2 separate regions of the Homo sapiens genome follow, and region 1 is linked to region 2. Evidence: fine-mapped expression QTL. Tissue or cell type: whole blood. Region 2 holds a variant in brackets; the other region holds the start of a gene. All regions are shown on one strand. Distances are from middle to middle.

Region 1 (6,229 bases), 140 kb after region 2:
TTTAAGTCCCATCTCCTCTCAGAGTTTGCCCCAGTATTCTTTGCCCCAAACCGTAAACATGGAGTTTTGATTTCCATGTCTTTATTTAACCAATGACTTGCTTCTTGATGCATCACCACTGAATGATGTATGGGTCCTTCTAATCAGCGTCTACACTGAAGTCTTAGGTGATTGTCGGCTCCCTTATAAAGGAAGCATGTGTTTTAAATAATCTGTGCCTGTGTTCATTATTAAACTAGATTATTTGATAGTGACCTGAAATTCTTTAAAGGAAAACCTTGTAATATTGATCTTGTTGTTTCTGCAGTTTAATAAACAAGAAGGTTCAAAATGATGGTAGGTTCAGCCTGTTTTTCCCCACCAAGGATAACCACAAATACAAAACACAAAGATATTGGGACACAAACATCCTTAAAATGTTCCTTGTTTGAATATCATAGGGCTTTTCTAATTAATTGGCTAGTATAACTGGATGAAAATATTATCTATACTGTACCCCAACAAAAATACGTTGAATGCTAGTTTACTTTTATGTGTCTTGTAACTAGTTCATCCGTGTGCTTGCATCGCACTGCTCATAAGTTTTCAAATATGGGACGGAGTGCTCAACTCTCGAAGACATCATTTTCATTACCCGTTTCCCAAATAAAATATTAAGGTTGAGGCTCTGGTATTTCATTTCAAATAGTACTGGTCTGTTTTTCCAGCCATGAAAACGTTTACATTCTAAGTAAAAATCCTAGCGATGGTTAAGTCTTAAATACAAATCCCCAAACTCTTGCACTGCCTTCAGCTTTCAGCTTGAATGTATAACCAGTTCCCATAATTACTACAATATTACTATTATCTTAGTCTCATTGCCAAAAACCCAGCTGCAGGCTAACTATGCAAGAATGAGACACTGTTGAAATGACTCGGAAAAAAAAAAAAAAAGAAACTTTACCCTCACTGAATTTAGCTACAAAATTCTGCAATTAAATGAAACCAATTCACACACACACACACACACACACACACACACACACACACCCCTTCTTCTAAGAAAGAACAGGATGCCGCTACACAAGGAACCCAGAGAGAAATTCGGCAAACAGTTGCGCCTAAGCCACCGCGGCAGAGTCGGGGGCTGGGGGCGGGGAAGAGGAGAAAACTTGGGAAGCACAATGACTCCAGTGAGGACTTCAGTGAGGGCTCCAGGGCTCCCGCCAAGAAGCCCACGGGGCTCTACCAAACTTGAGGGTTTGCGTTCGGGGACACGGCGGGCTTGGGGCTCGGGCACCGGCAGGCCGCTCGGAGCCCACCCTTGGCTGCCCGCGAGGCCGCGCCCGGGGGACGGAGGTCGGGCCGTCGCGAGCCTCCCTCTCGCGTCCGGGCGAACCCTGCCGACGTCCCTGCGATTTCCCTCTTCCTCCTCCTGCCTCTCCCCTTTTGTTTTTCAGGCATTGGGTCCGCTCCGGCGGAGGCCGGCCCGTCCTCCCCGCGCCTCTGTCCGCCCTGCGCGCCCCCAGAGCCCCGGCCTCCTCGTCTTCCTCAGGCCCCTCGGCCTCTCCGCGCGCCCGGCCTTTTCGAAAGCCGCCCCCCCCTTCCTCCTCACGTCTCCCGGACTCCCCACGTCCCCCAGCCTTTCTGTCTTCCCCGAACCCCTTGGCCTCCCCGCGCGCCCCCAAAACCCCCGACCTCCTCGAGCTCCCGGCCTCCCCACGTCCCTCAGCCTCCCAGTCTTCCCCAAGCCTCCCGACCACCCAGCGCCCCGAACCCCCGCCTCCCAGCGCGCCCCCTGACCTCCTTAAGCCTCTCGGCCTCCGCGAGGGCCCCCAACCTCCTCACGGCCACCGGCCTCCCCTCCTCCCAGAACCCGGGCCGGGGGCGCGGGAGGGGCCGGTCTCCGCCGCATCCGCCCCGGGACTGGTTGGGCGGCCCCGCTCTGCCCCTCCGCCCTCAGGGCCGCGGCCCAGCCCACGACCGCTGCACAGAAGGAGCCCGCCCAGCCCCCGACCCGCGCCCCGCGCCCGGCGCCCCGCACTCACTCGGACCGCGGCTCGGCGCCGTGAAGCGAAGGCAGACGACGACGGGGCGGCGCTGGGCGACAGCAGCCGCGCTTCCTCCCACGCCTCACGCCGCGGGCTCACAGTGGTCCGGGACCGGCGGCGGCGGCGGCGGCGCGGGCTCGCGCCCTCGAGGCCGTGCTGCGTCGGCGCGGGCCCGCGCGCGTGCGCGGCAGCCGGCTGAGGCGCGCGTCCTCTCTCGGCAGCGCACGCCCGACCCGGTCTCAGTCCGGAGTTCCCGCCTCTCGGGGGGACTGGGCATGCGCGCCGCCCCCGCGCATGCCCAGCGCGCCGCTAGGCTCTGCTCGCGTAATTTGTCCTGTAGTGACCGCGCCGGGGTTTCGGGGTGGCCCGAGGCTGCGCGCGGGCGTGGCGGCCGGACGAGGAAAGCCCTGGTCTCGGGGGTGGCCGGGGTCGCCCCGCCGAGCGGACATCCTGGGGTCCCACCTGCCTCGCTCTCCGCCAGCGGGATTAGACGGACTTCGGGAAAGTCCTCCCCATCTCCTTCCCTGCCCCCAAATCCCGAAGGGGTCCCCTCTGGAGAACCTCCCTCCTGAGCGGCCCTGCGGCCCCGCCCCCAGAGTTGGACGCCCGCTGTCGGGCACCCGCTGCGGGCCCCGGGCCTTGCAGTGCACTCTCCAGGCACCACACCGACCCTAACGAGCGGTTCCTGGGCCCTTTTTGCAGACAAGGAAACTGAGGCTCAGAGATTCTTTTCATGGCATTATAGCTAAGTTGGGCTGGGCCATTATTTGATTTTGGAAGATGAAAAATCATGAAAGGGACTTAGAAGTCCACTGGAGGTAGACAGGTTACCTAAATGAACGCCAGCAGGGAACGAGCCCTGCAATCCCTCCCGAGGGCTACAGACCTGAGACGGGCTCCAGGAAAAGGAGGGAAGGCTCGCCCCGACACCGACCCGGGCTTCCGCGGTGTGAGCCAGTTTCAGCGAGGAGCTAGTTGGTTATGACCGGAACGTGCCGTAGGTGGGGTGGGGGAAATAGCAAAAGGCGAGGTTGGAGGGATTGAAAAATGCAGACGGCTGCGTGGGGCTTGCTTAGGTGCCTGGAGTTTATTCTTTAGGCAACAGGGAACCTTTGGAGGGCTTTAAGCAGGAAGTGATAACTGATTTGTGTTATTTAAAAAAAAAAAAAAGTCACTCTGGCAACCTTGTGGTCGGAAATGAAACCAGAAGAACCCTCAAGGCTGCAACTTTCATTTTTATGGTGTCATTTTGATGCTAACCACAAGCCAGGAAGCAGGACAGACAGGCACCGAGGCCTTTTGAAAGGTGAACACCCTGAAGCCCAGAGAGGTGACACACGTCATTGCATTAGGAGCTTTTATAAAAGTAAAAATGAAGTAAAATAAAAAGCTTTTGCTTATCAAGATTTTACCATATTTAAATGTTTGGGTTGTATTGTTCTTTAATGAGATGTATTAAGGTTGGTGTTTTTCTGGGTTTTGTTACTTTTTACTACATATGAAATTGTAAGGAATTGCCTCTCCATGCCAGCCTCAGGCCTTTGCGCGTGCTATTTGCTCTGCCTGGAACTTCTTGCTCCTCACTTCGTTCAATACCCTGCTTATATATCACCTCATTGATACAGCCGACCACTTCATATAATAGGAACCACCCACTGCCCTGCTATCCTCACACACAGTCCGCACTTAGTCTGCTCTGTTGTTCTCCAAAGCACCTATTGTTCACCATAGCCCAACACTGTGTTCTTGTTTATTTCTTGATTGTCCGCTCTCTCCACTAGAATCTTAGATTCATTAGAGCACGGGCTTTGTTTTGTTCACTAATAGGTCCTGGCACACAGTAAGTATTTGTCAAGTGAATGAACGAAGCTTTGGGTGATGTGAAGTGAGAGCTTATTATTAAAAGGATAAGAAAAGCATGGGAATTAAAAGAGGAGAGTGGAGGCACAAAGGGACTGCATTAAGGATAACTTTGGGGGAAGGGGCTGCACTTAGCATAGTAGACTAAAAATGGCCATCAATTCTTTGACACTTTTCCCAAGAAGAGGTGGAATTTATTCACCCCTTGAATGTGGATGGGATCTTGTAACTTGCTTTGACCAATGGGATGTGTCACAAGTGACATTGTACAAATTCCAAGCCTAGGCCTCAAGAGGCCATGCTGCTTTCATTTTCCCCCCTTAAGCCCAAGCTAGCCTCACGAGGAGGCCGTGTGGAAGAGAACTGAGGCACCCTGGCCAACAAGGTGCCACCTCCAGACATGTGAGTGAGCTGTACTAGACCACCCAGCCCCTGTGAAGCATACATAAGACCTGGAGAGACTGATGGAAGAACTGCCCAGCTGAATCCAACCCAAATTGCCAAACCACAGAATTGTGAGCCAATAAAATACATGTGGTTTTAAGCCTTTAGGTTTTAGGGTAGTGTGTTACACAATATTGTTTCCTGGACTCTGCCACGATACATTTGAAATTGACGTTCTTGAAGGGCAGCTTTGGTTATTATTATGCTTAGTAAAAGAAGAAATCAGAAAACGGCGGGAAGAAGTGATGCAAAGGAGAAGGGCAAACAGAGATACAAACGGGAAAAGGGACAAACCTAGGAAACAGTGGCTTGTCTTACCTCTTGGGCACACTTTGTGGTGCCTGAGAACTCAGGTTTAGGAGTAAGATGAACATTGGCACAGACCCAGGCTTAAGTTTAACCATTCACCAATAAACCTGTGAAGGTTGTATAATGTCTCTGAGCCTCAATTTCTCATCTGTGAAATGGAGGCTCTAAAGGATGTACATTAGAATTAGGCTGTAGAGAGGCCGGGCACGGTGGCTCACACCTGTAATCCCAGCACTGTGGGAGGCCAAGGCGGGTGGATCATGAGGTCAGGAGATTGAGACCATCCTGGCTAACAAGGTGAAACCCCGTCTCTACTAAAAATACAAAAAAATTAGCCAGCGTGGTGGCGGGCGCCTGTAGTCCCGGCTATTCGGGAGGCTGAGGCAGGAGAACGGCGTGAACCCGGGAGGCAGAGCTTGCAGTGGGTGGAGATGGCGCCACTGCACTCCAGCCTGGGTGACAGAGCAAGACTCCATCTCAAAAAAAAAAATTAGGTTGTAGAGGAAACAAACCATTCTCATAAAACAGCAGGGTGCTTAGCATATATAAGTGTTATTGATCGACTATAGCATTGCTTTATCGATTACTAATAATTTGCATGATGATGGAGGGGTATGCAAAGGACCACCAGAGCACAGAGTCAAGGAAGGCTGACTTCTCTCAGTCTCTGTGGGTCAGAACCTGAATACGCTGTCTCCAGACCTCATAGCAACCCTGTGATGTAGACGCTATTATCGGCACCTCCATTTTATAAATTTGAAAACTACTGCTCAGACAGCTGGGCGCAGTGTCTCACGCCTATAATCCCAGCACTTTGGGAGGCCGAGGCGGGCGGATCACTTGAGGTCAGGAGATCGATACCAGCCTGGCCAACCACAGTGAAACCCTGTCTCTACTAAAAATACAAAAATTAGCCGGGTGTGCTGGCACGTGCCTGTAATCCCAGCTACTTGGGAGGCTGAGGCAGGAGAATTGCTCGAACCCAGGAGGCGGAGGTTACAGTGAGCTGAGGTTGGGCCATTGCACTCCAGCCTGGGTGAAGAAGCAAGACTCCATCTCAAAAAAAAAAAAAAAAAAAAAAAGGAAAAGAAAACTACTGCTCAGAAAAAAAAAAAAAAAAAAGAAGAAGTAGCAGCAGCAATGAGTCAGATAGCAGGGCTGGAATTCAAGGCTGCATCTGTCCAACTGCAAAGCCTGTGCTCCTTCCTCTCCCCAGCGCAGTCTCTGATGCACTCATATCCCATACAAAAAAAAAAAAAAAAACCAAACAGAGAACACAATTTGGCTTCTCCCCTTCCTGCACTGCACCAGATGGGGTGAGCGCTGACCTTGCGTGGGAAGCTTTCAGGAAGAGCTTCCTGTGTGTTGGCAGAGCAGCTGCAGTGAGCCTGGGAGCAGTTCCCCCTTGAAAAGCCCCCCACCTCCCTGGTCGGCTAAGGGCTCCCTCCCAGGAGGGGCTCACTCACGCTGGAGAAGCAGAAACACACATTAAGGCCAGGGGTGGATGCACAGTCATGGGGGCGTGGAAGCTGATATCACTGAAGAGACACTGAAGCCCAGGTTCCTGCCCACATCACAGCTGACCA
Region 2 (5,000 bases):
CCATCAAAATACTGACAGAAAATGCCTACCCTGATTTGTGTACCCAGCAATACTATTTTTCAAGCAGGAGAAAAAAAGAACATTAGAAAAATGGATCTAAATAACACAATTAAAAATCTTGAAATAATGGCTATTTATTGAGCCTGTGCCAAACAATTACAGAAGACACATTCCACTCAAGCAAAACTGGAACCTTAACAATATCTAAATATGTGCAAGGTGATGAAACAAGTCCATACGGAACTTAAACAATTAGTATCAAATGAGCCACAGTCTCTTGACTACAATGCAAAATTATTTTCAAAATGAGCCAAAAGAGATAAATTATTAAATCCACGGATGATCACTTTTCCATTTATACCAACAAGGTATACTGAATGTCCTGACCAACCACCTAGCTGAAAGCAACTAAAACCGCTGAACAAATTATTTTTTTAAAATCTTCTTGAATGCTTACGTGAGCTGGGAAACAAAACAAAACAGAAAATACTCAAGCTAATGACAGGAATAGAGAAGTCTATGGGAGAACTTAAGGTCAGCTTTTACCTTAAGGGTAGAACTGAAGAATAAAAACATGTTGTAAAGCATGACAACTGGCAAACAAAAGCAAGCATGGGAATGATAAATACAAAATTCAGGATAATGGTACACTGAGTGGAGTGAAAGGGCAGTGTGTACAGTGAGGTGGGCCACAGGAACATGGGACAGGGAAGTATCAGGATGTTCTTTTCATCTGAGCAGTAGGGTCATGGGTATTCATTTTATCATCAATTATCACACCTTATAAAAGAATAAACATATATCAGATATTATAGAATCTACAGAATTAAAAATTATCAATGTCATCAAATTCTGAGCCCCATAAAAATCACTGATTTAGCCTAGAATTCAGTGGAAGTATGTTATGTATATATGTATCCATCTTAAATGTTTGCATCAAATATTAAAGACTTTAAAGGTTAGAGAATGCGTATCATCAAATTCTGAGGCCATTATAAAGTGACTAATTTATCTCACACTTCAGTGAAGGTTCTCACACACAATACTTACGTAACGTTTCAGCTGCATTCTCAGATAAATATACGCTGGCTATAGAAAGCTGATGAGGACAATTACTGATTTATCTGTGCCCCCCCTCCCGCCCACCCCCGACATGTGTGTTTAAATAGCAGAAACCTCTGGATTCCAAACTGATTTTGCAACTTTGGAATTAAACCCTTTCCCAAGTTGGGTGCTGCCTGTGCAGGACAATATATGGATCACTTATAACAGTTCTGGAATTGCGAAGCATGTAGCAGGGCAGATTCTGCATTGAGACTTTACCAGGAGAAGTCAAATATATAATTACTTACCAAACCAGCAATAAAAACTCATAGTATATTCAAAACTTTCTTGCCAGATCAGGCTAAAATTTAAAAATATGCATTTTTTTCCCACATAAACGAAAATTATACAGGTTTTATACATGGCCTGTTTTAAACAACAGCATTTAATGCTGTTAATACCTTCCACATCCATGAACAGTTGTACCTCCCTGTTAATGAGGGATACATAAATTTGAAACTCAGTACAACTAACCTGTTGAAAGACATCTGCAACGCCTCTAATTTCTTTCTTGTTACTGTAATATGCTTATAAGCACCCTTGTACATGTATGCATACATGTGTAAATCTTATTTCTTTTGAATAAATTCATAAAAGTAGAATTATTAGGTCCAATCATAGGGAACTGCCAACGTTTCAACTGTTTTTTACTTACGGTAAAGATGGCAGTCAACAGGGTCACCCAACAAACTGGAGGACGTGAACATACTCAAGGCTTTTGGTATACTGGCCAATTCATGCATTTTGACAAATCATAGTATTTTGTTTTTGTTGAGACAGGGCCTTGCTCTGTCGCCCAGGCTGGAGTGCAGTGGCATGATCTTGGCTCACTGCAACCTTTGCCTCCTGGATTCAAGCTATTCTCCTGCCCCAGCTCCTCAGTAGCTGGGATACAGGTGTGTACCACCATGCTCTGCTAATCTTTTTATTTTTAGTAGAGACGGAGTTTTGCCATGTTGGCCAAGGCTGGTCTCGAACTCCTGACCTCAGGTGATCCACCCGCCTCGGCCTCCCAAAGTGCTG[G/C]GATCACAGGCGTTAGCCACCGCACCCAGACAATCATAGTATTTTCTTTCTTCCTCCCTTCCCTTTTTATGACTTTGGTACCACCTTTAACTTCCTCCAATTACCATTACTTGAGCCTGAAATACTAGCACGGAAAAACAACGACATTGCCAATCACCAATGGGAAAGGAATGTGACCATGACTATACTTTCTTTTAAAATGTATGTACTTGATAAACTATTACAAAAGGATACACAAAATGAAAGTGATTATTAGAATAGAGATAATTTAAGTAATGTTTTAGAATTATTTTTTGAACTTTCTAAAAGTGTGCCATGCCAAGCATGGTGGCTCATGCCTATACTCCCAGCACTTTGGGAGGCCAGGGCGGAAGGACTGCTTCAGGACAGGAATTTGAGACCAGCTTGGGTGGGTAACATAGCAAGACCCCCATCTCTACAAAAGACTTTTTAAAAATTAGCGAGGCATCATGGCACGCACCTGTAGTCCCAACTACTCAGGAGGCTGAGGCAGGGCGATTGCTTGAGCCCAGAAGTTCAAGGCTGCAGTGAGGTATAATCATGCCACTACACTCCAGACTGGGCAACAGAGCAAGACCCTGTCTCTATAAAAATAAAATAAAATTTTTAAAAATATTAAAATGTACCATATAATTTAACAGATTTTTAAAAATTAAAAAGACAAGAAGAGAAACTGTAGAAATGAATGACAGCAAAGAGTGGGGTGGAGGAGCTGAAAGGCTCTACAGAGTGCACATAGGAAGGAAAAGGCAAGCTATGTACCATCCCATAATGTGCAGCTCACACTTGTATGGTGATATGCAAATGGCAAATGCTGAATCCTCTAAGTCTGTTACTGTCTACAGACTGAAATTCAAAATATCACTGGGCAATTATATGGCAGACAATTTTATCTCATATAATGAACTTAACAGTCCTATACAATAGTTATTCCATATCTATATTTTAGTATATGAAACAATTAAGCACAAAGAGACTCAGAGGTACCTAAAATCACAGAGCTATTATATACAGAACAAGCACACGACTGTATTCACTGCATATTCCTTTAAGCGAAATTTCATTAACACTTAACTATACTTAGTGAATGCCTTGATCAGAATTTTTTTTAGACCACTCTGACTGGATGGCAGTATCAGGGATAGACTGAATTTTTAATAGGTTCATTACATTTAGCTTTCTCTTGGGTTTTATAAAGACCGCTGAACTGAATTCTATAGACTACCATAAAATATATCCTATTAGTAAAAGAAAATCTGGGATACATTGGTATGTGCAGTACTCACTTTATCATATAGGAAAGTCTTCCAACAAAGAAAAAGTAGGACAACCTAGTAACAGTGTGAACTAGGAACAAAAAAGTTGCAGACTTTTAGGTTAGCCTAGAAATTATAAAAAGGAGTCACTTAAGCCTGTATTATGCATTCTGGAAATCAATGTTACTAAAGTACCCATGTATTTCCTCGGTGGGTAGAATTTTTTTTCAAAGAAGTAATACAAGTAGTGACACAGATCACATACCAAGAGAAAAATGCTAAATAAACATGAGTTATTTAAACTCTCTTGTTATCTCCTTCGCCAAAATATGAAGTTCAACAGATTCCTAAAGGATGAGATGTAATAATACATGAGAACCAGTCTGTAAGATGAAAATTATTTTTGCAATGAGTAGGCTTCCAATAAGCTCAGCTGGAATCTAAAAACGCCTTCTTAATCTTTCCATTTTACCAACTTAACTCCCTTTCATATTCAACTCTGTATTATCGTAAACCCTCAAAACTTGTCACCAATCCCTTACCTCAAGGTTCCCCAAACCCTGGGCCATGGATCAGTACCAGTTAGTAGCCTATTAGGAACCAGGCCACACAGCAGGAGGTGAGCTGTGGGCAAGCGAGCATTACCGCCTGAGCTCTGCCTCCTGTCAGATAAGCAGTGGCATAAGATTTTCATAGGAGCGCAAACCCTGTTGTGAGGTGCACGTGTGAGGGATCTAGGTTGCGCATTCCTTATGAGAACCTAAGGCCTGATGATCTGAGGTCAAACAGTTTCATCCCGAAATCATTCCCCCACACCCCACCCTGCCACACCCTGTGGCCCTGGTCTGTAGAAAAACTGTCCTCCTCAAAACCAGTCGCTGGTGCCAAAAAGGTGTTAGGTAAAGCAGCAGGCCCCAACCTATCTCCTATGTGACTACTTCTTCACAGACAAGATGAAAACAGACACACCCCCGCCAACAGCTGGAAACTTCCTTAGCTTCCTACTCTCTCAGCTTGAATCTTTTAAATGGTAACATCTATCATTATCTCACATAGAAAAATATAGAACAACTTACCTTCTTACCTCCTTCTTTTGAATCTAATCCACCATTGCTCTTTCATGGCAGTAAGTGCCTAGACTTACATAATAAGCCTTTTTCTTCCTTATTTTCATATTCTGTTTTAGTTCAATCTCTGGGTCCTATCAAATCCATCCACTAAATTTGCTTATTATAATATACTTTCACTTTTATTTAATTTCTTGCCAGAATGATTGAAGAGCCTCTAAACATGCTTGCAACCTTTTAAAAATTCAATCTATCCCTGATACTGCCATCTAATCAGAGTGGTCTCAAAAAAAAAAATTCTGGTTACGGCATTTGCTAACTAACGTTTTTAAATGGCTCCCAATATCTGCAGGAGAAAACCTAAACCCCTGTTTACATAATGTTTGTGGTCCCTCTCTCACCAAAATGTTATGAACTATTTTAGCTAAGACTGCACCACATTTTCTCTCTCCCCTCCGTGTTCTTGTCTAGAAAACACAACTCTTCCTTTTCTACAAAGTTGAAGACTCCTCAAATGATGCTTTTCAGT

The links. PIP is the estimated chance that this variant, and not a neighbour inherited with it, causes the effect.
Region 1: PTK2 starts here. The variant in region 2 is fine-mapped to the expression of PTK2 in whole blood (TOPMed, PIP 0.98).

Annotation. Positions count from the first base shown.
Region 1 is chr8:140,999,098-141,005,326 of GRCh38, forward strand. PTK2 (protein tyrosine kinase 2) reads right to left here and starts at 2,185. Exons shown (of 36, transcript NM_001352702.2): 1 at 2,028-2,185. RefSeq lists silencers at 1,850-2,179, 2,200-2,619.
Region 2 is chr8:140,858,616-140,863,615 of GRCh38, forward strand. All of the region lies in intron 5 of PTK2 (protein tyrosine kinase 2), which reads right to left. Among named protein-coding and RNA genes, the nearest start is that of MIR151A, 130 kb to the left of the region's middle. The variant G/C (reference allele first, on the strand shown) is at 2,128.